Linked DNA regions of Homo sapiens: regions 2 and 3 are each linked to region 1. The links come from fine-mapping of genetic effects on gene expression. A gene starts in region 1. Each other region holds a variant in brackets. All regions are shown on one strand. Distances are between the middles of the regions. Region 1 holds the start of CD40LG (CD40 ligand). Region 2 has its middle 15 kb from the start of LINC00892. Region 3 overlaps ARHGEF6 (Rac/Cdc42 guanine nucleotide exchange factor 6).

Region 1 (8,190 bases):
GCCAAGCATTTGAGAAAAACTAGCAACATAATGAAAAGGACCAAAATAAACAAATGGAACTGACCCAGAGGAAAGAGGGAGAATTAAGGGAATTGAAGAAAATGTAAATATATTCTGACATGTATTGCTAGAAAAGCTAGCCAAGCGCTATTCTCCCAGGTTAGAATATTTTACAACTTCCCCTTCTATCTCTTTAAAATAATATTTAGTAATTTGGCAAACATTTACTAACTCCTTACAATGTGTCAGGAACCAAAATTTCTGGGTTTTTTTGTTTGTTTGTTTGTTTTAATTATCTTTTTCCTCTAATAGCTAATGGTAGAAAAATCAGACAAGTCCATTATGATATGATGTGGCAAATGCTATGATAGATTAAGCACAGAAGAGGTAGGGCACAGTGGCTCACGCCTGTGTAATCCCAGCACTTTGGGAGGCCAAGGCATGTGGATCACCTGAGGTCAGGAGTTCAAGACCAGCCTGGCCAACTTGGTGAAACCCCGTCTCTACTAAATTTACAAATATTAGCCAGGCAGAGTGGTGCACGCCTGTAATCCCAGCTACTCAAGAGGCTGAGGCTGGAGAATCACTTGAACCCGGGAGGTGGAGGTTGTAGTGAGCCAAGATTATGACACTGCACTCCAGCCTGGGTGACAAAGCCAGACTCCTTCTCAACAACAACAACAACAAAAAGATTAAGTACAGAAGAGAGCACCTTGTCAGCTGGAACAGAATATTTCACTTAAACATTAATAGATAGCCGGGCGCTGTGGTTCACATCTGTAATCCCAGCACTTTGGGACACCGAGGCTGGCAGATCATGAGGTCAGGAGTTTGAGACCAGCCTAGCCAATATGGTGAAACCCCGTCTCTACTAAAAAAATTTTGTAAAAATTATCCAGGCGCGGTTGCGCAAGCCTGTAGTCCCAGCTACTTGGGAGGCTGAGGCAGGAGAATCGTTTGAACCTGGGAGATGGAGGTTTCAGTGAGCTGAGATCGTGCCATTGCACTCCAGTCTGGGCGACAGAGTGAGACTTTGTCTCAAACAAACAAACAAACAAACAAAAAACATTAATAGATAAGACAGGAGAGAATTAGCCTTGGCACACAAATAACATGAATAAGCACAGCACATTTCAGGAAATAAAACTAGCTTAAAATGTTTGAGACCTAATGAGTCGTAGACGATGAGGAGAGAAATGTGGGCAGGGGTCAACTCATCTGCCATGTTAAGAATCGAGACCCTTTCCTCTAGTCTAGAGCTTTTCAGGTATATTCAGGGAAAAGAACCCTTAGGAGGCCCTTCATACAACAAACAAAATACTGTTATATTTAACTCTTTCATATGTACTGGAAATGATTTTCCAAGCAGAAATTATGACTGTGTTCTGGGTTATCAATATAAAATCACAACCACAGGCATATTCACATCAAAAACAAACTGTTGAAGTATGATCCATTGTTTTTCTTATTTTTCCCTTGATATTTGCTACAAATCAATCACTAGCTAGCAGAAAAGTAGTAGTAGAAAAGGGTGACCAATATTTAAGAAAATTCTGTGTAAAAATAACTGAAAAATGAGACTTCAATCCATTAACTTAATTCTTTCTGTAAACTTAGAAAAAGATGGTCAATATTTGATTTTGGCTATAGACACTTGCATGCACTCCTATACATGTATACATTTCTTGGAAACTAAGTTTGATAATCATTTTTGGACGTGTTAGGCAGCTGAAGATATTAAAACGGAGCCAACTCCCTGTTAGGGAGAGACAGGCATGAGAGGTTCTGAGACAAAGAACTTCTGATGCAGAATCAGAAATCAAAAAAACAGCCCAAATGAGGAAGCTGGAAAGGTAGCCAATTGTGGCATTATGGTAGAGGACCAGGCAGAAGGATGAGAGAAAGAGAAGGCTTCAACAATTGAGGTACAAGCAGGGCATTCTGGAGTCAGTTGCTGTCAGTGTGAAAGATGGATGGGGTGGGACAGAAAGAGAAACAGGGAGATAAGTTAGGATGGTACAATTCAGTAATCTACAAAGGAGAGGATATATGGGCCTGGAATAGGATGATGGCAGGGGCCATGGAGAGAAGTGGTGGCAACCAAGGTTTTTGGAGGAAGAAGCCACTGGGATTGGGGCAATCTGGGGCAAGAGAGAGTGAAAAATCATGAATGGATCCCAGATCTCTGACTTGGGCAATTAAGTGGGTGGTGGGACCATTCACAGAGATACGGAGAATCTTAAGGGAGAACAGGTCTGGATTGGAATTAGAGTGGTGAGATAAATTAATTTTAGAGCATACCAAATGTAAGATGGCTTTGGGATATCCAAGTAGAGATTTTCAGAGGTAGCTGTGCTTACAACTCTGAAGTTCAGGACTTCAGTTATAGATTTGAGATTTATCACAATGAAGGTGAGATTGAAACCCATGAAAGTTCATGAAACCCATGAATCACCCAATGAAACCATGGAGAACAAGAAGAGAGGGGAGGAGAGGAGAAGGGAGAAGGAAAGGAAATAGAGAGAAGGAATACCAAAGTTTTAAGGGATACAAAGAGGAAAGAAGATAACATGAAGAAGGATTCTGAGAGGCAGAAGCCCTTAAGAATAGGGTGATATAGAATTCAAGTGGGGAGAGCATTCAGGAAGATGACAACAGGATAATAGGTCAACAGAGTAATAGAGAGGTCGCTAAAAATAAACTCTAAGAAGTATTCAGCCAAAACTATTATTGAGCTAATAATGGTGGGATCAATTTCAGGGGAATATTGTGGGCAGAAGTCAGACTGTAGGAGGCTGGGGATCAAGAAGTTGAGGCAAGGAGGTTGGACAACAACTGTTTTTTCAAGTTGGTCACGTGAACAAATCTGTGACCTTCAGCCTCCCCTCCCTCGGGTCTTGGCTGAGCTGATTGCAGGGCCCCTGCAGCTCTGGCACTCTCAAGTTGTATAAAACTGACAGTGCAGAAGTCCTTGAGCCCATTTTGGCTCTCATGATAATTTTCCTTCAGTGGAACTAAGGTTACTTGTCTAAGAACCAAAGCCTCTGACTTGACTGATCAAAGTTCATCACGTGCATCGAAGCCACCTACTTGGCAGATGTAGTGAAAAGCTACATAGATCTGGGCCCAGGACAGGATGCTGGGGCGTGGGAGGGGAAGAAAGCAGGTGCTAACTATATAGATAGCATGCCTATCAGAGCAGTTTTTACGTTTCCTATTTGTCTCTCAAAACAATTTTATAGGAATCATCAAAGCAATTTTATCATGGTTTCTAGACCAGGTTTGGATGTGAGGTAGGGATTTCCACAGCTGCTTTTAGTTTGAAGGAAATCTGATAAGATGATGCAAAAGCCCTTCAGAAATGTGTAATCCTACACACTTCAGTGATTCAATTCATTGTCAAAACTTAAGGTGTTTTTAATATTGTTATTGTTCATTTGGTTTTTACCAACATGTAAGGAGTTGGCAATTATTTGTTAAACTCATGTCTTAGGCTAAATAAATTCCAAAAAATTCAGGATGAGAATTGTTTATTGCTTAACGTGTTTCAAATTTCTTCCATGCACATCTTTATTAGATCTTCACAGCAACCTACAGGATAAGCAAGACAGGTGCAAGTGCCTCCTTTGGGTATGAGGAAACTGAGGTCTAAAGAGATGAAGTGATTTGCCCAAGGCTCATAGCAATTTATTGGTAGAGCAAAGACTAGAATTCAGATCTCTTAACTGCAGCCTATTTTCCCTATTCTGAACTGTTACATCAGCATCAACAATTATCTAATGGATTGGAACAGTGTACACAGGCAGCTTAGCTACGTCAAGTCACGATTTTTACTTTAACTTCAATTCCAGAGTCTTGGCCTGATTTCCCTCAAGACCCTACTTATCTTTGCCTTTGCAAAATTTATTTTTCTTGCATTATCTTTCCAGCTAAATTTTATTTAATAACCATCAGCATGCTTTTTTTGCTTTATGCCATGTAGACTTGACCTGAAAACCTGCCAGGCTTTCATTGAGTTTAGTGATTAAAGAAGTAAAGTTCTGAGAAGCAATTAGTTGATGGGACACCAGTCATAAAATCAATCCAAACTTTTGTTGACATGTGTTTCTTTCTCCATATACCAGGTTCCCGCTTCGTATTAGTAAGATTGAAATTGAAATAAGTCTATTGCTGGTGGATGAATTTGTCACTTTCCTTGAAACTGGTGAACCCAAAAAGTTAGACAGTGATAGGAAAATACTGCCATTGTCTGTTAAGAAGTCTATGACATTTCAAGGCAAGAATGAATATATGGAAGAAGAAACTTGTTTCTTCTTTACTTACAAAAAGGAAAGCCTGGAAGTGAATGATATGGGTATAATTAAAAAAAAAAAAAAAAACAAAAAACCTTTACGTAACGTTTTTGCTGGGAGAGAAGACTACGAAGCACATTTTCCAGGAAGTGTGGGCTGCAACGATTGTGCGCTCTTAACTAATCCTGAGTAAGGTGGCCACTTTGACAGTCTTCTCATGCTGCCTCTGCCACCTTCTCTGCCAGAAGATACCATTTCAACTTTAACACAGCATGATCGAAACATACAACCAAACTTCTCCCCGATCTGCGGCCACTGGACTGCCCATCAGCATGAAAATTTTTATGTATTTACTTACTGTTTTTCTTATCACCCAGATGATTGGGTCAGCACTTTTTGCTGTGTATCTTCATAGAAGGTTGGACAAGGTAAGATGAACCACAAGCCTTTATTAACTAAATTTGGGGTCCTTACTAATTCATAGGTTGGTTCTACCCAAATGATGGATGATGGTAGAAACCAAATAGAAGAATGGTCTTGTGGCATAATGTTTGTTGCCTAGTCAATGAAGTCTCATATTCTTGTCTCTGGTTAGGATCTTGGGATCTGGAGTCAGACTGCCTGGGTTCAAATCTTGGCTCTGCCCATACCATCTCTGTTATCCTGGGGCAAGTGCCTCAGTTTCCACATCTGAGAAATGGGGATGGTATTGGTGTCCATTTCATAGATTAAGTGAGTTTAGCCTTGTAAAAAGCTTAGGAGGGGGTCTGATACATAGTAAGCACTATGTACGCACTAGCTATAATTATTTGCTAAAGTTCTGCTTTAAAAGTAAGCTATTTTTTTATGGAGACAGCTTTTTTCTTTTAAATTTCCAGCTAGGCAAGAAGAGCGTCAATTTGATCTAAAATTTCATAATGCTTCAGATTAACATAGACATGGATAAGTCCCAGAATTTGCAGTCTTTTAGTAAAAGTAGCATTTTCTGTGTAATTCTTCACAAGCACTGATTGTAGTTGCAGGATGCTCAGTCTCCCTCTGAGATGTTTTACATTTTTAAATGGTTAGACTTGCAGGAACAAAAGAGCAGAGTAACTTAGTAGGCTGTTTTGCATTCTTAGGAAAAGAAAACCATCAGGACTTATTTTGTTTTCATGTATTTTTTCACTTCCACTGAGGAGTATAATTGGCTGGTGTTGACAAAATACCAATCATAGATGTAAAGGAGAAAGTTGATTAGTTTTCTGGCTGTTCCTAAAATTCTGGATGCAGGAACTGTGGCTAGAAAGCATCTGGATGATTGCACTTTATCAGGGATACTTGAGTGTCCTCTCTTAGGATCTGGACCTAGAATTAATGTCATGAGATTTTTCTAACAGGATAAGGTGAGGTAGTGAGGGCTGAAGTCATCCACTGGGTTATCCAAATATTAGGTTTCACTGCTGACAAAAGAGGGGGCTTCTGGTCTGGTTGGTTATTTGTGTTTGGCCTGATGTGCTCTGTCAATCAAATGTATGGACATAGGCCTAGCTTCTAAAGGGGCAATAGTGACCTCAGTGGACTGATATTTACCGTACTATTTACATGTGCTCTTAATTACAGCAGAAGCTGCCAGCTAACTGAATCTTGTTTTGAATCTAAAAAATCTACTCTTAAAGCAAGAAAATGGTATAAAATTAGTTGATAATGCAAGTGAATTCTGTACATTTAATTATTCTAAGACATTGGAAAATAAAATATCTTGTTACTTTGAGGATAAAAGATGATTTCTTTAAAAATGCAAATGTTTTCTACAAATACTAAAGTTAAAAGGGAGAGAGATGTAATTAGAACTCGTTAACTGACACATTGCAAATTAACTTCTTTTTATAAAGCACTGCATCACAAACACTAAAATGAAGTGGGCAAATTAGCTCTGCAGAAAACTATTTTCTAGGCTGATGTTTATAATGACCAATCATTACTGAAGCAATGAGAAATGTGACAATTACAGAATATTGCTGCTATAGTATGTTGAAAAAATATGCATTTTGTAGTGAACATTTAGTAGAATAGCTCTGATTTCTACCTGGAGTTTCTGATAACATGACATCTTAATTGCTGTCTTTTATAGATTTTTAAACTGCAAATACAAAATAGCAATCAGCCAATATAATAACTTATTATTCTCCATTTATGCCTGAAAGTCCTCCTCTTGTTGATGCCGTGGAAATGAATGTAGAGGCAGATATCATTAGCTGTATTCTCCTTCCGAATGACATTTATCATATCCTTGTTATTCCAAAATAGATAGAAGATGAAAGGAATCTTCATGAAGATTTTGTATTCATGAAAACGATACAGAGATGCAACACAGGAGAAAGATCCTTATCCTTACTGAACTGTGAGGAGATTAAAAGCCAGTTTGAAGGCTTTGTGAAGGTAAGCAGCTTAATTACTGGTAAAAGTGTCATTGAAATATTTTACTACATTTGCTAGATCGGGAAACTGACAATGCCAATGTTTAAAGATTGGTTATAGACACAGACACACAGACACACACACACATATATATGCATGCAGATATACACACATACATGGGTGTGTGTGTGGGGGTTAAAAAAAAAAAACACAAAGACACTCTCTGGGGAAAATACACCCTTAGGGGCACAGTCACACATATTTGTCAGCTTACATATGCAGCTACCACTAGGCAAAATGATGAAGTCCACCAAGCTTGGTTTTTGCATTGCTGTGTCTCCCCATCCAAACCTTGATGCTCTCGCACTGGGGACCCAGAGTCTGATCCCCATTTCCCAGGGAAGCAATAGCCGTCAACAGCTGCCGTGGCAGCAGGCCACAAGTGAAGGGACACCTGAAGACTGGTAACAGTCTCTGGTGCTTCTCTGATGATGGAATTTTAGGTGTCCTGACAGTGAGATCTTTCCCTTTTACTGGGGAGAGAGGTGCAGGGAATAAGTAATAGACATTCTCAGTGTCGCTCAAACCAGACTCCATATAATATCACTTGCTCATGAAGCCCGCCCACTCTATGGCCGGTCATGACCAGAGGCACAGAGGGTTCAAAGCCTTTTAGCCCACCAGGCTGGTAGCTAGCATGAAGTCACTGCAGTGACTGTGGCTTATAACAGATACCTAAAACAAGAATTTTTAGAACCTTTACATTAATTCCATCATCACAGACATAGGGTCTAGGGGCTCTTTCTCCTGAGGCAGAACATCAAGAGTTCTTTCTGCCTATGTCCCTTTCAGAACACTGAGTCAAATACCCTTGGGCCTCGGCTCACTTAGGGGTCATTTCTAGGAGGCAGCACTCCACATTGAGGACAGTTCTGGGCCAGGTGGGTGGGTATCTGGGTAAACCAACAGGAATTAGTTCTCACATATAGATGATGTGTAATTTAATGCAGGCGTAAAAGGGTTAAGATCTTATTTCTGATCTTATTTCTGCCCTCCTGTACTGTCACCGAGGTGCCATTTAATTCATTAGTGAAGACTCTAACAGCTTATTCCTGAGTCACCTACGGAGAACAGAATGTGGCTCAAATCCGCTGCTTGCTTTCAGGTTCTTTACACTAATCTAGGCTTTAGATGAAACTCCTAAACCCTTTCTTTGCAAGACTGGCCAGCTAGGAAAATGATTTGAGTTTCTTCGGTTCTTCGAGGATTTGGGCCAGTATTACAGAGTATTGGAAGATGTTACCAGTTTAAATGTGAATAAAGGCACTTTCAAAACAATGGCTAATAATCCAAATAACAGACTGAATGTGCTTGGCTATGTGACTTTGGGTAAATAACTTCACCTTTCTGGGCCTCAGTTTTGTCATCTATAACATGAGAAGACAGATTATCTGTAAGGGCACTATCAGCTCTGACATTCTACAATTATGTGATAAGC
Region 2 (8,190 bases), 24 kb before region 1:
CACTCTGACTCAGAACAAGAGGCCCGTATGGCAAGCCCATTGCCCTGAATCAGAGCTTTTCCAGTGTTTGTTGATAGGAAGGGAAGAACGCAGGTATGGCAACAGTGATCACAAGATCTACAGCTTTGGAAATCTCTCAAACCAATTTCTAGTCACTCGTCATCTAAAGATTGTTCCTGAGGGGTAAAGCACCTTGATATGAAGGCGGAAACGATGACACAGTGGCTGCGAAGGGTTCCTTCTCTACCCCACCTCATCCTCTACCCCACTCGGTTCCTCAGTCCACGTTTTGGTTCATCCCTCTGGATGGAGTGAAAAGGATTTGACACCAAATTCGCAATAAGGCATGAGTAGTGTGGGTGCAACCGCTTTAGGTCATACTTAAAATTTGAAGAGAATCTCAGATAGGGTGAGAAATCTCTAAAATGGACACCCAAGCCCTGTGACCTCTCATCTCCAAGCCTCAGGGTGAAATGAGCTAGTTTAAGTGAAACCTTTCTTAATTATTCCAGTGAAACCATCTTCCCCATCCTGGTCATCTAACCAATTATCCCATTTCATTTTCTTCATAATCTTTATTACTACCTGAAAGCATCTTGTTAATTTATCTATTTGATTATTGTTTGTCTACTCTCTCAATAATGTTTATGAGGACAGGGACTTTGTCCGTTTGTTCACTCCTGTATCTTTCAGTGCCTAGAACAGTGTCTGGAACACAATAGGTGCTTGATGAATATTTGTGGTGTGAATGAAATAATAATGAACTGAAATGATTTTTAAGCAAGGTCTCCTGAAAATAAATCATTCACCCTTCCCCATAGCCTTTGACAATTCAGAACCCAAACAATTTTTTATGGGGCAAACAGACTACCCTTTGTTCTCCCTTAACATTAACTAGCAGATGTGGCAGTGATAGGAAGTGTGGGTCAGTTAGTCACCATCATGCAATGAACTTTATGTATGTATTTTAAAAAATTTTAATTTGTGTGGTTACATAGTAGGTATATATATTTATGAGATACTTTAGGTATTTTGATACAGGCTTGCAATGTGTAATAAGCACATCATGGAGAATGGGGTATCCATCCCCTCAAACATTAATCTTTTGTGTTACAAACAATCCAATTACACTCTTCTAGTTATTTTTAAATGTATGATTAAGTTATTATTGATTATAACCACCCCGTTGTGCTATCAAACCATAGGTCTTACTCATTCTTTAACTATTTTTTGTATCCACTAACCATCCCCACCTCCCCCTCTACCCACCACCCTTCCCAGCCTCTGGTGACCATCCTTCTACTCTCTACCTCCGTGAGTTCAATTGCTTTGATTTTTAGATTTCACAGGTAAGTGAGAACATGCGATGTTTGTCTTTCTGTGCCTGGCTTATTTCACTTCAGTGGACTTTTGGTGAAAGGTAAGCTGGAGTACAGGCTGCCTAGAGGCCAAGACACTCTCCTGGATATGTATGCACTGGCTCAAGGCCGGAAGGGAACACTTTTCACTTCTAACATAATTGAAATGCTGAAGAGGAGTTTGAAAGGTGAAGATAACAGGTCTCCGCATGACAACCCCACAGCTCTGAAAGTTCAAAGGTTTCCACTTTGTTAGATGTACACCTTTTAATGATCCCCCGCACTCTATGGCCTTTGCCCACGATAACCCTCACAACAGCAATAAGGTGTGTAGGTGGCAAGTATTATTAGGCTCACATACAGGCGGAGAAAGTGAGGCACAACCAAGGCGGGGTGAGGGTGAGGCAAGCCAGGTGAATCAACCACTTTGCTTATTGTTTACTTCATTCGAGTTGCCACTCATTGAGTGCCTACTTTGTACAAGGCATAATGCTTGAGCAATGTCAACCACTAGCCCATGTTATTTCTCCCATTCAGACAGGCCTAGGTTTGCTTGGCTCAGGACGGGGAAAGGCTTCTGCAATAGCTTAGAAGCTGCACTTGAGCATGCAGCCGCAAAAGAACAGAGCTGGGAAGACCAAAGCCCCTGAGGTGATACCCAATGCTTAAGAAGAGTGGGTTTCCTATGTAGAATGAGAGGAATCTTCTGCTTGGTTTGTGATCACAGGGTTCACTAGGGGCCAGGCACTGTGCTTTCCCTGCATTATGACATTTGGGTCTTCACAACCGTTGAGGCGAGACATAATTATCTTCCTTTGACAGATGAGGAAACTAAAGCTCATTGACTTACCTAAAGTCACGAAGCTGGTAAGTGGTAGAGTCACTTGAACATGAATCACCTAAGGTCTATCTAATCGTAGAGCCAATCCAGCTGAAGACATGTCAACCGGTATGCTGCAGCATTCAGGTAGAACACTGGGGCTCTGTTGTCCTATAGTGACCAAAAAGCTCATTCAGCTAGAGTTCAGTGCAGTCACCATTGGCATCTACAATAACATCACAAGCACTTAATAAATGTGGAGTGAATGCATGAATAATGTTCATAATGAAACATATAATCTTCAAGAAAACATGACCACATGTTTAGAGTCTTCTGTTGGGAGATAACATTTCAGGAAGTTTCTTTCCAACAACAGCTATACTTTGGAAGTTTCCACTTGTAAAAGACTGGCCGTCAACTAGCATCATGCATTGCTTGATGACAGGGTTACATTCTGAGAAGTATATTGATAGGCAATTTCCTCATTGTATGAACATCATAAAGTGCGCTTACGCAAACCTAGATGGTATCACCTACTACACACCTAGGCTATATGGTATGGCCTATTGCTCTTAGGCTACAAACCTGTACAGCATGTTATTGTACTGAATGCTGTAGGCAATTGTAACACAGTGCTCAGTGTCTGTGTATCTAAACATATCTAAACATAGAAAAGGTACAGTAAACAAATACGATATTGTAATCTTATGGAACCACCTTTGTATATGCAGTTCCATGTTGACCAAAATGTCATTATGCAGCCCTTGATTGTACTTGAAAAATGAGCTTCTCTAGAAGAGTGTTTCCCCTGATGGTTCTGGATAGTGGACTTGCTTGCCTCCACTGATCTTCCTTCACATGCAGTGAGTAGGCAGTATGCAGTTGCAGTGATGGTGAGCATAGACTCTGAAGTCAGACTGCTAAGGTTCTAATCTTGGCTCTGCCAACTTGCTAGCACAATAACCTTAGGCAAGTTACTTCATCTTTGTGTACCTCCATTTCCTCATCTGTTGTGGGGATTAAGTGAGTTATTATTTGTAAAATACTTAGCACCTGGCACATAGTAAATGCTACGTAAGTTATTATGCTGCTTCAAGTAATAAATGAACCTGTGAATAAAAATTGGCCCATGGATAGGCCACTAAATAGACAAAACAGAAGCATTAAGTTGAAGTTTAAACCTTCAAGTTATAACTTCCGTGCACCAAGCATTTCTCTTTCCTCTTTTCACTGTTGTTGAGATCTGGAGTAGTTAGACTGTGGCCCACCAGAAGCCACACTCTGTGACCATCAAACCCCAGAATTGCCCACCTCTGTCTTCTAGAAACTCTGGGTAGGTGACTCAGCACTCACTTGCTAGTTCTCCTGTAGTACCCTAAGCCTGAGGCTAGCCTGAACCACAACAGTGGGTGATCTTGGCAGTGTCTGTTGGGTGGCCCCTCTCTCTCCTATTAAAAATAGCTTCCTAATCTTTGTTAGTGAACTATAGGACTGATTCAAGACAATTTTGTCATCACCAAGTTGGCTTTTTCCATCCCGCTCCTGATTACATGTCCTCCCTCCTCTTGCCAGGCTACCCGTGAGCTATATCCTCTATTTTTCAAAGTTAGCCGTAGCAAACCACACCTTTGGAGCATCTGAATA[C/G]GAGGTCTATAACATCTCTATTTACGTTCTCAGTAGTAAAATGCCTCTATATCTTTTAAAAAAAATCTCTAAGCTAATGTTTTCTATTTTTCTCTTAAAGTTAGGAGATTTGGAGAACTCTATATTAGAAAGCTCCAAAGAATAAAAAAGGGCATGATTATCTTTTTTTCTTGATTCAGAAGAGCACATTCTGTCAACAAAATATTACTTCATGCACGTGGAGCGTTCTCACGAAACATTCATCTGTCCTTATGAAATGTTGAATTTTGCAAATAAAAGGTATATGGTGCATAATTTTAATATTGAATTGATGGAATTTCCTCCCTGACATCTGAGTTCTCTTGCTTAACAAACACTTCTCTCTTCACTAAGCAGCCCTATACTCAGGTTTGTTTCTACTCTTCTGCTCTTCTCTCCACTCCTCACCCGTCTCACCTCCACTACCAGTTGCTCATCCCTATTTATTGTTGGACTAAACAAAGATGACATGGTATGCATTGAATTGTGTCCCTTGAAATTAATGGATCAGAATCTCTGGTGTTGGAGTCTTGGGATTTGCATTTTAATGAGTTCCACTGCTCTAAGATCTCCTTCACCTTCACATTTCATGAGTCTATAACATATTATCCACTTTGCCCCATCCCCATAATCTATTTAGAAACAGGATCATGTCTGGGTCTTGTGCTGCTCTTGCCTTCTGGTTTGATCCTTAGTACTACTGGTGATTGAAATCCTAACCCTGGTACTTCAAAATATGACCTCATTTGGAAATATGGTTATTGCAAATGTAATTAGTTAAGATGAGGCCCCACTGGCGTAGGGTGAGCTCTTAATCCAATATAACTGCTGTCCTTATAAAAAGGGGAAATTGGGAGACAGACACGAACACACATACAGACACACGCACACACACACACACACACACGCACACAGAGACAGAGAGAGAGAGAGGGAGAGAGAGAATGCTATGTGAAGATGAAGGCAGAGATCGTTATGAATGCATCTACATACCAAGGAACACCAAAGATTGTCAGCAAACCATCAGGAGAGAGATAAAACAGACCCTCCCTCTGCATCTCCAAAAGGAACCAATCCTGCTGACACTGTGATTTTGTACTGCCAGTCTCCATAGTTGTGAAACAATAAATTTCTGTTGTTTAAGCCACACCCAGTTTATGGTACTTTGTTACAGCAGCCCTAGCAAACTAATACGCTATATATATGTGGTCAATTAATATTTTTGTTTTTGGCTAGGTAAGGTGACCAGATGTTCAAGTTTTTAATACTGTGTATATGTCAAGGGGTCGGGTCTCCTGGGGAAAGTTCTCAACAGAATAGATATATTCGAGGGCCCAGGGATCCAGATGTGTAACTGGATGTGAAATAGCTGGCTGGCTTAGCCAACAGAAATGACACTTTGTCCTTACAGCCTGGCACTCTGGCCCCAAGGAAGTCTGTGTTGCAGTTCAGTCAGTTTACAGGGAACAATGAAGCTGAGGGGGCCAGATCCTTCTTGTGGGTGCCCCTCCCCTGCTAGCACAGCCCATTCAGTCTAAAGCTTCTAGTGAGCAGTAATACTGGCTGTAGCTGGAAACAACAGGCCAACTGGAATCCTTGGCCATTGGTACACACTCACATGGAAAGCCCGGAAGGAAAAAGGACTCTCACTAGGACCATCACAGAGAGGAAAAGGCCCTGGGCTGAGTAACCTGGCATCTTAATTTTGTTCTCAAGGCCCTTGAGCAAATGACCAATGTCTCAGGGCCTCTGTTTGCTACTTTGTAAAATAAATGGGCTCTATAACCATCCTGCTAAGGTAGGCTTTCTCAAAGTAGCCCAGCATGGACCACTGGCAGCACAATCACCTGATGTATTTGTTCCCAGCCCGGATCCACTGGATCAGAATCTCTGGTGTTAGAGTCTTAGAATCTGCATTTTTAATAAGTTTCATTGCTCTAAGATCTCCTTCACCTTCACATTTCATGAGTCTATGATGTATTACCCACTCTGCCCCATCCCTATCATCTATTTAGAAACAGGATCATGCCTGGACCCCATGCTGCTCTTAGCTTCTAGTTTGATCCTTAATACAGCTGATGATGTCCTCAAGTGCTTTCTAGCTGTGAAAGCCATATTTCCACTTCCAGCAAAGAATGATCCAGAGCAAGGAGAAAAGCAAAAATAAAGCTTTAGTGAGAAATAGTTTTGAAAGTACTAGCTTAACATAAACTTTTGATATTGCCTGGCTTTTAATTTTCCAGAACCTGTTTGTCCCTCATGAACACAAACGATCAGTAGGTACCCTCACTATTTCCTTGAACTCATTCCTTTGACCAAAAAAAAAAAAAAAAAAAAAAAAACGGAGAGAAGGGTAGGTTCACTAATCATTTGAGTTCTACCAAACATCACATAATTGTTTTGCATATCAGTATTTTGTCCTTTCCTGCTAAAGGTCTTTCCTTGGGTTTGCAAATAGAAGTTTGAGAAGAGTCCTGGTACTGACTGAGCTTTCTTGGTAATGTCACGAAATTTCCAACCACAAAGTCAATCTTCATTTGAGTCAGAGCAATTAGAGGAAGACTAATGGCTGTGGACAAACTACTGAAATATTTTACTGAGGAAGCTAAGTAGGCAATTCAAATGGGAGAGACTTTTTGTAAGGGTGGAGTACCATCTGCCACCTTCTAGCAGGGAAATGAACAGAAGCTGTTCTTAAAGATGAGGAAAAAATTTGAGTATTCAAGATTCCCTCTGACGAACTGTAGGGAATGGCATTGAAGGATGTTTTACTGGGCCTTATTGTGACACCTGTTTTTCACAGTATTTCTATAATTCAAAGTTTAAACTTTGATTTTCAAATCATCTGGCATTGCCCACATTCCAGTACCTGGGATGCTTGAGTTTGGTTCCTCAGGAAAAGCTGCTTATTTCAATTGATCTAGGAAACTATTGACCAAAGTCAATAACTCTTGGGCTCAGTTTAAAAAACATACTGTAGAGTCAGTTAGAAAAGCACAGAAAGGTCTTTTTTTTTTAGCAGAATGTTGGCTAAAGGGCTAGTACCCTGTTTAGAAGTCAGAATAGCTCTTAGTATACCCAAAGACACCAAATGTTCAAATGACTTTTTTCGCTTGAGAACACAATGGTGCTGGTGGCTTTGTTATTTCCTGAGGTTTGGCAGCCAGTGATGAAGATTTCCTTGTATCAAGAACATGCTTCTTTCATGTAATCTAGGATACTAAAAAGGGTCCATCCTAATAAAAGAGGCCCATGATGCAAATGGTTTGGGTTGGCAATTCCTGTGCAAATCAACAACCACAAATTATAGATTTCAAAGAGTCCTAAGCATTAACTGGCCTCTAAGTAAAACTTAGGGTTAGAGGTTTTCAGCAATGTGACAAAATGCAGTCATTCTTATCAGGATTATAGAGTCTCAGTGACACTTCCATCAGCTGAGCCAGTTAGTGTCAGAAAGATTCTGCTTCTCATGTTGGGATTTAACTTGATGTCCTCCAAGTTGCTAGAATCTTCTTAATTGGTTACCACGGGGGTGGGGTGTAAACCCACCGGGGCACACTCTCCAGCAAACCAAACAACCAGATTAAAAGGATGTGGGAGAGGCTTACACACACACAACCCCCACATCAAGGCCACTGAAACACCTCTTTAGCTGGGAGTAGGTCATGTAGGTGATAGGTGCCAATATAGGATCTAAGTTTGAGGGTGGGAGACTTGGGTCACTAAAAATGACTCATCCAGTGGTACTCATACATACTCCATTTCTCGTGAACTTGATGCGGCTCATGCAGCTCCAACTTAAGGGTCTTTGAAGAAATGACTATCCCTGCCAGAAAAAGTAAAAGCTCTTTGAGGACAGAAGTCATATCTTGAACCTCTTAACCTTGTATCTATTGCAGAGAAATAGGAGAAAAAACACAATTTCACAGTGATGTGATGTCATTAAAGGGAAATATTTTATCATCTTGCCTTCTAAAACAGTGGCTATTAAAATATGAGGCAACATAGAAAAACGCTTATTAGGAAAGGCTAAGTGAAAAAAAGCAGGATGCAAAAATTACATGTATTCTATTATTATAACCATGAAAAAAATATATAAAAATAAGACTAAGAAGGAAATATGACAACAATAGTTATGTTAGAAAGGTAGGTTTTTGAGTAATTGGTAATTGTATTCCTTTTCTCCTTTTTTGGTAATATTGTTAAATTACTTTTATGCTTTTTCAGAATTTTATTTAAAAGAGGGGTTTCTGTGCAGGTATTATACAATCAAGTCCCCAGGCTGAAACCATGAGTTGATTTTTCCCCTCACCTACCCCAGTCTTCCAGAAACAGAGAATCTCAATGGGT
Region 3 (8,190 bases), 55 kb after region 1:
AAGGTCTGTTGGAATAAGAATATAATACCAGATAGTAACACAAATTCACAGGAAAAAATGAAGGGAAATAGAAATGGTAAATAAGAAAGTTAATATAACAAACACTATAAATATATTTTTCCTTTCCTTTCTTCTCTCAGTTGTATTAATGGACATAAAATTAAATAACAATTATAGCATGTATTATTGTGTATATGGAGTTCATATTTATAATAATAATAACAAAAAGGGAAGAGGAAACAGTTATACAGGAGTCACATTTTTATATATAACTAGAATTAAGTTAGCATAAAAAATGAAGTCCATTCTGATAAGATATATATGGAAAGTTTTAGAGTAACCACTAAAAGACACCCCAAAATATAGTGAAATATTATAGAGAAAATTTATAACAAAAACGTTTAAAATAATAAAAAAATAAAATATAGTGAAAAAATCATTAAAGCACTTCTGATTTCAGCTCTGACATCGAAAGAGCTTGGAAGTCATCACACTATAGTCATAATTAAAAAAATACTGAACAAACTGAAAATCAATGACTTTTGTTAGATTTACTGAGAATTGAGATCACAGAAAAAATCACCACCTCAAAATCTGGAGAAACAGTGAATACAGAGAATTACAGCTGAGATTAGCTTCCCTAAAGCAGAAGCCACTGGACCCAGTAACTGGCAGGAACACTTGCATAGTGATTTTAATGAATTCCTGGAGTCTGAATGTGGACCCCAACTTGAGATTTAAAAGCTCCTGGAGAACCATCTTGAGGCGGGGCAATGCTTTTGTGGGTTTGGGATCCAAAAACCCAAAAATGTTCCATAGTGAAGATCAGAGAAAAATCCTCTCATGTTTTGGGATAGGAGTGGGGGCGGGGTGGAGCATCCATTTTGAAATAATCCCAGAACCTTTTCCAAAACAAAGGCCTGTCTTCCAAGGGAAACTATGTTGCCAAGTCTTATCTGACCTGAGGAAGGTACAATAGGCCAGCTTCAGCCCTCTCTCATCTTCCTGCCATATGTGAGAGGACTAAAAAAGGCTAAGAATTGCTTCTGGAGGTCAATTTCCAGGGACTCAGGTCTACTAAAAAATTGAGACTTGTTCATAACATTATAGAATGTGTCCCCTTCCCCAACACCTTATCACCACATTGACAGGGCCCCAATATATAATAACAGTGGATTACAGGGAGGGATCTGCAAGACACAGACTCTATTTAAGAAGGAGTTCTTAAGAAACCCAAAGATAGGCAGGGCGCGGTGGCTCAGGCCTGCAATCTCAGCAGGATTGGGAGGCTGTGGCAGGTGGATCACTTGAGGTCAGGAGTTTGAGACCAGCCTGGCCAACTTCATGAAACCCTGTCTAAACTAAAAATACAAAAAAATTAGCCAGGCGTGGTGGCACATGCCTGTAATCCCAGCTACTCAGGGGGCTGAGGCATGAACATTGCTTGAACCTGTGAGGCAAAGGTTGCAGTGAGCTGAGATCGCGCCACTGCACTCCAGCCTGGGAGACAGTGAGACAAAAAAAAAGAGGAAAGAAAGGAAAGAAAGAAAGCCAAAGTTAATAAGAGAGAAGGAAAGGAAACAAAAAAAATCTAAAGCCCCTCATACTTACAGCTACAGCAAACATTAAACACAGGCAAGATCCTAGTCAGATTAACAGAAAACCTCACAGTAAACACCTAGTTACCTCAGTTCCTATTACTTAATTTATCATGTCTGCCTTCCAACAAAACATTACAAGGCATGCTGAAAGGCAAGAAAAAAACAGTCTGAGGAGACAAAGCAAGCTTTAGAATCAGACTCAGATATGACACAAATTTTGGAATTATTAGGGAATTCAAAATAACTATGGTTAATATGTTAAAGGTTCTAACAGATAAAGATAGACAACATGTAATAAAAGATGGGTAATGTAAGCAGAGTGATAGAAACACTAAGAAATGATCAAAAGAAAATGCCTGAAATAAAAAACACTGTGACAGAAATGAAGAATGCCTTTGATAGTCTAACAAATAGGCTAAACATAGCTGAGGAAACAGTGAGCTTCAAGATATGTCAATAGAAATTTCCTAAACTTAAATGTAAAGAAAAAAATTTTAAATGGAAGAGAATACACAAAAACTGTGGAACAAGTACAAAAGGTGTAACATGCATAATGGGAATATAGACAGAAAAGAAAGAGAAAAGAGAAGAAATATTTAAAATGTTGACCCTATTAGGCCAAGAATTTTGCAAAATTATTGACAGACCCCAAACTGCTGATCCAGGTATCTCAGAGAACACCAAGCAGGATATATAGCAAAACATATCTACACCTAGCCATTTCATATTCAAGCTGCAGAAAGGCAAAAGCAACGAGAAAATCTTGAAAGAAGCCAGACAGGGAAAAACACCTTACCTGTAGAGGAACAAGGATAAGAATTGTATCAGACTTCTCATTATAAACCATGCAAACAACAGAATGGAATGAAATATTTAAAGTGTTGAAGGAAAAAAATGACAACCTAGAATTCTGAATACTTTCTCAAACAAACAAAAAATGTGGGAAATTGTGGCCAGATGACTTGCCTTGCAAAAATGTTAAAAGAAGTTCTTCAGAGAGAAGGAAAGTGATATAGATTTAAAAACAACAAACAAAACTTGGATACATGGAAAAAAGTATCAAAAATAATAAATCCAGGTAAAACAAAATATTTCATTTTTCTTTTTTTTTTTTTTTTTTTTTTTGAGATGGAGTCTCGCTCTGTCACCCAGGCTGGAGTGCAGTGGCGCCATCTTGGCTCACTGCAAGCTCCGCCTCCCGGGTTCACGCCATTCTCCTGCCTCAGCCTCCCTAGTAGCTGGGACTACAGGCGCCCACCACCACGCCCGGCTAATTTTTTGTATTTTTAGTAGAGACAGGGTTTCGCTGTGTTAGCCAGGATGGTCTCGATCTCCTGACCTCGTGATCCGCCCACCTCGGCCTCCCAAAGTGCTGGGATTACAGGCGCGAGCCACCGCACCCGGCCTCATTTTTCTTATTCTTAATTGATTTAATAGATAACTGTTCAAAGTAATAATAGCAACAGTGTATTGGGTGATTTTACTTTATAGAAAAGTGAAATGAATTACAATAATATTATAAGGGATAAGAGGGAGGAATTGAGAATATTCTGTTATAAGTTACCTATGAAATTGTGTAGTGTTATGTGAAAGTGTTGTTAGATTTAGCTGTAAATACATAACATAAACTCTAGGGATACTGGTAAAATTTTTTAAAGGGAGTATTATATGCTAAGAGAAAAGTGAAAATAAAATGTTTACTAAAAACAGAAAAGGCGGAAAAATAGAGGTAAAAAAGAAACAAAGAACAATTGCAATGAATAGAAAACATGGCAGATACTAATCCAAATATATAAATAATCACTTAACATGTGAATTTTCTAAATACGCCAATTAAAAGAATGAGACTGTCAGAGTGGATTAAGAAACAAGACTCAAATATATTTTGTCTACAACATATATTTTAATCTATGACAATTAAAAGTAAAGAGATGAAGAAGGATATATCCTATTAACAATAATTGAAAGAAAGCTGGACTAGCTGTATTAATTTCAGACAAAGCAGACTTCCGATCAGGGAAAATTATCAGAGATAAAGAGGAAAAATATACAATGATAAAAGGGCAAATTCTCCCACAAAACATAATAATCCTTAATGTGAATGCACCTAACAACAGAGTATCAAAATACATGAAACAAAAATTGATAGAACTGAAAAGAGAGATAAATCTATTGTGGTTAGAATTTAACATCTCTCTATCAGGAACTGACAGATCCAGCAGCAGAAAATTAGTAAGCAGGCAGTTGAACTGAATAGAACCATCAGTCAAGTGGTTCTAATTAACATTTGTAGAATATTTCATTCAACAACAGTCACACTTTCTTCTCACACTCACATGGAGCATTCACCAAGATAGACCACGTTATGGGCCATAAAACACAACTTCAATTTATAAGAATAGAAATCAACAAATGGTGCTGGGACAACTAGATATCCACATGCAAAAGAATAAAATGGAACCATATGCACAAATTAACTCAAAATTAATTAAAGACCTAAATATAAAAGCTAAGATTATAAAACTCTAAGAAAATAAATAGGCATGAATCTACATGACCTGGATTAGGCAATAATTTCTTAGATACAACACCAAAAGTGCAAGCAACAACAACAAAACAACATATTGGACATCATCAAAATTAAAATGTAAAATCAAAATTTTTGTGCTTCAGAGAACACCATCAAGAAAC[C/T]GAAAACACAACCCAAAAAATGAAAGCATATTTTTTCAAATCATATATAGGCACACCTCATTTTATTGCAGTGTACTTTATTGAACTTCACAGATAATTGCATTTTTTACAAATTGAAGTTTTGTGGCAACCGTGTGTTGAGCAAGTCTATCGGTGCCATTTTTCCAAAAGTGCGTACTCACTTTGTGTCTATGTGTCATATTTTGGTAATTCTTACAATACTCCAAACTTTTTTTATTTTTTTTCCTGAGACGGAGTTTCACTCTTGTTGCCCAGGCAGGAGTGCAATGGCGCAATCTCGGCTCACGGCAACCTCCGCCTCCCAGGTTCAAGTGATTCTCCTACTTCAGCCTCCCAAGTAGCTGGGATTACAGCCATGTGCAAGCATGCCCAGCTAATTTTGTATTTTTAGTAGAGATGGGGTTTCTCCATGTTGGTCAGGCTGGTCTCAAACTCCTGACCTCAGGTGATCCGCCCGCCTTGGCCTCCCAAAGTGCTGGGATTACAGGCATGAGCCACCACGCCCAGCCAATAAAGTATTCTTTAATTAAGGAATGTACCTTGCTTTTTTAGACATGATGCTATTGCACACTTAATAGACTATACAGTAGAGTGTAAATATAACTTTTGTATTCATTTGGAAACCAAAAAGTTCATGTGACTCACTTCATTGCAATATTCACTTCACTGTAGTGGTTTGGATCCACAGTATCTCCAAGGTAGACATGTATCTGGTAAGAATCTAATATCCAGAATATATAAAGAACTGTTGCAACTCAACAATGAAAAGATAGCTAACTGAATTTTTTAAATGAGCAAAAGATTTAAATAGACATATTCCCAAAGAAGACATTAAAATAGCCAATAAGCAAGATGAAAAGATGCGCAACATCACTAGCCATTAATAATGAGTGACTGTTACTGGGGACAGGTTTTTAGAGGGGAGTAATAAAAATGTTCTGGAGCTAGACAGTGGTGATGGCTACACAACCTTGTGAATATATTAAAAACCACTGAATTGCGTAGTTTAACATCGTGAATTTTATGTTATATAAATTATATCTCAATAAAAATACACATAACCCAATTTAAAAACAGGCTAAGGATCTGAATAGACATTTCTTTGAATGAAGGTATACGAACTTCCAGTAGGTACATGAAAGATGCTGTATTAGTCCGTTTTCACACTGCTATAAAGATACTATCTGAGACTGGGTAATTTATAAACAAAGGAGGTTTAATTGACTCACCATTCCACATGGCTGGGGAGGCCTCAGGAAACTTACAATCATGGTGGAAGGAGAAGGAAAGGCAAGTACTTCCTTCACAAGGTGGCAGGAAAGAGAGCAAGAGCGACGGGGGAAGAGCCCCTTATAAAACCTTCAGATCTCGTGAGAACTCACTATCATAAGAACAGCTTGGGGAAAACCACCCCCATGATCCAGTCACCTCCCACCTGGTCCCTCCCTCGACATGTAGGGTTGACAATTCAAGATGAGATTTGGGTGGGGACATAGAACCAAACCATATCAGATGCTCAATATCATTATTCCTGAGGAAAATGCATATCAATCTCACCATGAGAAACCACTTCATATCCACTAATATGTCTATAATCAAAAAGACTGACAATAACAAATGTTTGGTGAGGGTGTGGAGAAAATGAAACCCTCATACACAGATAGTGAGAAAATAAATTGGTGCAGTGACTTTGTTTTGTTGTTGTTGCTGTTGTTGTTTTGTTTTTGTTTTGTTTTTTGTCTGAGGCAGAGTCTTGCTCCGTCAAGTGAAGCCAAGGTGGGCGGATCATTTGAGGTCAGGAGTTCGAGATCAGCCTGGCCAACATGGTGAAACCCCATCTCTACAAAAATTAGCTGGTCGTGGTGGTGCGTGCCTGTAATCCCAGGTACTCTGGAGGCTGAGGCAGGAGAATCGCTTGAATCTGGGAGGCAGAGGTTGCAGTTGTGCTCCAGCCTCGGTGACAGAGCAAGACTCTGTCAAAAAAAAAAGGAAGGGAAGAGGAGGGGAGGGGAGGGAGAAAAGAAAAGGGTAACTTTCTATTGCTTAAGCCAGGTGGTAGATACACAGGTGCTCATTTTATTGTGATCCTTTAAATTTGCATTTACATTATTCTTTCTGTGGATAAAATATATGTCTTAATAAAAATATTTTTTAGAAGTCTGACAGACCTGGATTCTGGCTCAACCACTTAAGATCTATGAGTTCTTGGGCACATTACTTAACCTAAGCCTTCCAATGTCTTATCTGTAAAGCAGAGATGGTAATAATAATAACTCCCTCATAGGCTTTTACATCATGTGCCTGGCACATCGTCAGTGCTATTACTAGCTAATGTTAGCTATAAGCAGTTGAGCCACTTGCCTAAAAATGCCAGGTTCATGACCTCTCTTTCTTTAAACTCCAATTTCCATATTTGCTATTCCATAAGAGTTCAAAATTTATCAGAGGAATAAAATTGACCTTCAAGCAGGACTTACTGCGTTCAACCTTTAAAATGTCCTTACATAACATCTTTGTAAAGCCAATAAATATTGCACCTTAATAAACCAGGACAAGAACCAAAATTTCTGTCATTTCTGGAGGCTCGTGTCAACTAATGTTCTAGCCTAGCTCTGGGAGCTCAAATCTAGGTCAGATTAAGAGAATATTATTTTCAGTCTTGAACAGCTTCCAGAATCCATGTCCATTCTGCATCTTAGTCTCCAAGTTAAGTCAAGAGTCTCTATATGTTGGACTTGCTTTTGTCCCACCTGGATTTCCAGCATATGACTTCAAAGGTAAAATTCTGTCACTAAGCCTGTCCTACAGTTTTCTGGCCCAGATGAATGTGTCAGTGAATGTGTCAGGGGTGGGTAGTCAGAAGCTAAGGATGGCAGGAGAGGTGTAACACTTATCTAGGTCCCTTGCAAGGACTCGTATTCTTAAAGGAGACACTATTCTATTGTTCATCATGAATCGGAAGCAACTTATATTCATGTATAATTATTATCAGAGCCCTTTGCTTAAAGTATCTGTCACACAGCTCACACCTGCTTTGTAGCTACATCATTGCCTAAAACTTTCTCTACGCAGACTAGGGAAGGCAAAAAGAGATGAAGCTACACAGTTTAGCTATGTGTCAGCAACTCAGAAAAAACATTCATTGGGGTAGGGGAAAGCTAAATGATAGGCTCGAAATAGAATTTTGCTTCAGGAAAGCCCTCCCTGACCCTTTCTTCACATCCCACTAAGTTGATATCATGTTAATGTTATCTCACAGAACCCTTTTAATTTACTGTTTCATAATATGACACGTTTACAACATTTAATTTAATATCTGCATTTCCCTCAAGATTCTGTGCTCAATGAGGGGAAGGACCTCCTCCTCCTTGTTCATTCCTGTATCCCCATCAGCTGGTACAGGGCCTTGCACATAGTAGGTGCTCAAGAATTTATTCATTGGATTAATGGACAATCAATCCATGTAACAATGAATCAATTCCTGGCATCATGAACAGGGATAATCAAGAGTCCAACTGAAGACCTTGGATTTCCAAATGACGTGGTCCTAAGAAAGGATCTCATTGCAAAAGTTGGGGAAATGTTAACTATTTACCTGTGCTGAGTGAGCACATTTACAGCTGAAGGATGGTTTGCACAGTAAGCCAGATACATAGATTTAAAATGAGGCATGAGACTCAGTAGACAACCTCCTACTTTGTGCTGGTTTTCTGGAAACCTGTAAACAAAATGGACAAAACACAGAATGTAAAATAGGAAACAGGAGGCAAAGGAAGATTATTCCAATTAAACCTGGCAGCATGAAAGCCTTCTGAATATTTTGCCAAGGTTAAAAGAGAAACTATATTATAACCATTTTACCCATGAAACTCAAATT

The links. PIP is the estimated chance that this variant, and not a neighbour inherited with it, causes the effect.
Region 2: its variant is fine-mapped to the expression of CD40LG in whole blood (TOPMed, PIP above 0.99). The same link has a PIP of 0.9 or more in blood mononuclear cells and lung.
Region 3: its variant is fine-mapped to the expression of CD40LG in whole blood (TOPMed, PIP above 0.99).

Annotation. Positions count from the first base shown.
Region 1 is chrX:136,643,685-136,651,874 of GRCh38, forward strand. CD40LG (CD40 ligand) reads left to right here and starts at 4,474. Exons shown (of 5, transcript NM_000074.3): 1 at 4,474-4,720; 2 at 6,582-6,713. The coding sequence starts at 4,565.
Region 2 is chrX:136,620,094-136,628,283 of GRCh38, forward strand. No RefSeq gene overlaps it. Among named protein-coding and RNA genes, the nearest start is that of LINC00892, 15 kb to the right of the region's middle. The variant C/G (reference allele first, on the strand shown) is at 3,823.
Region 3 is chrX:136,699,000-136,707,189 of GRCh38, forward strand. ARHGEF6 (Rac/Cdc42 guanine nucleotide exchange factor 6) reads right to left here. Exons shown (of 22, transcript NM_004840.3): 9 at 7,909-8,031. Among named protein-coding and RNA genes, the nearest start is that of CD40LG, 55 kb to the left of the region's middle. The variant C/T (reference allele first, on the strand shown) is at 4,293.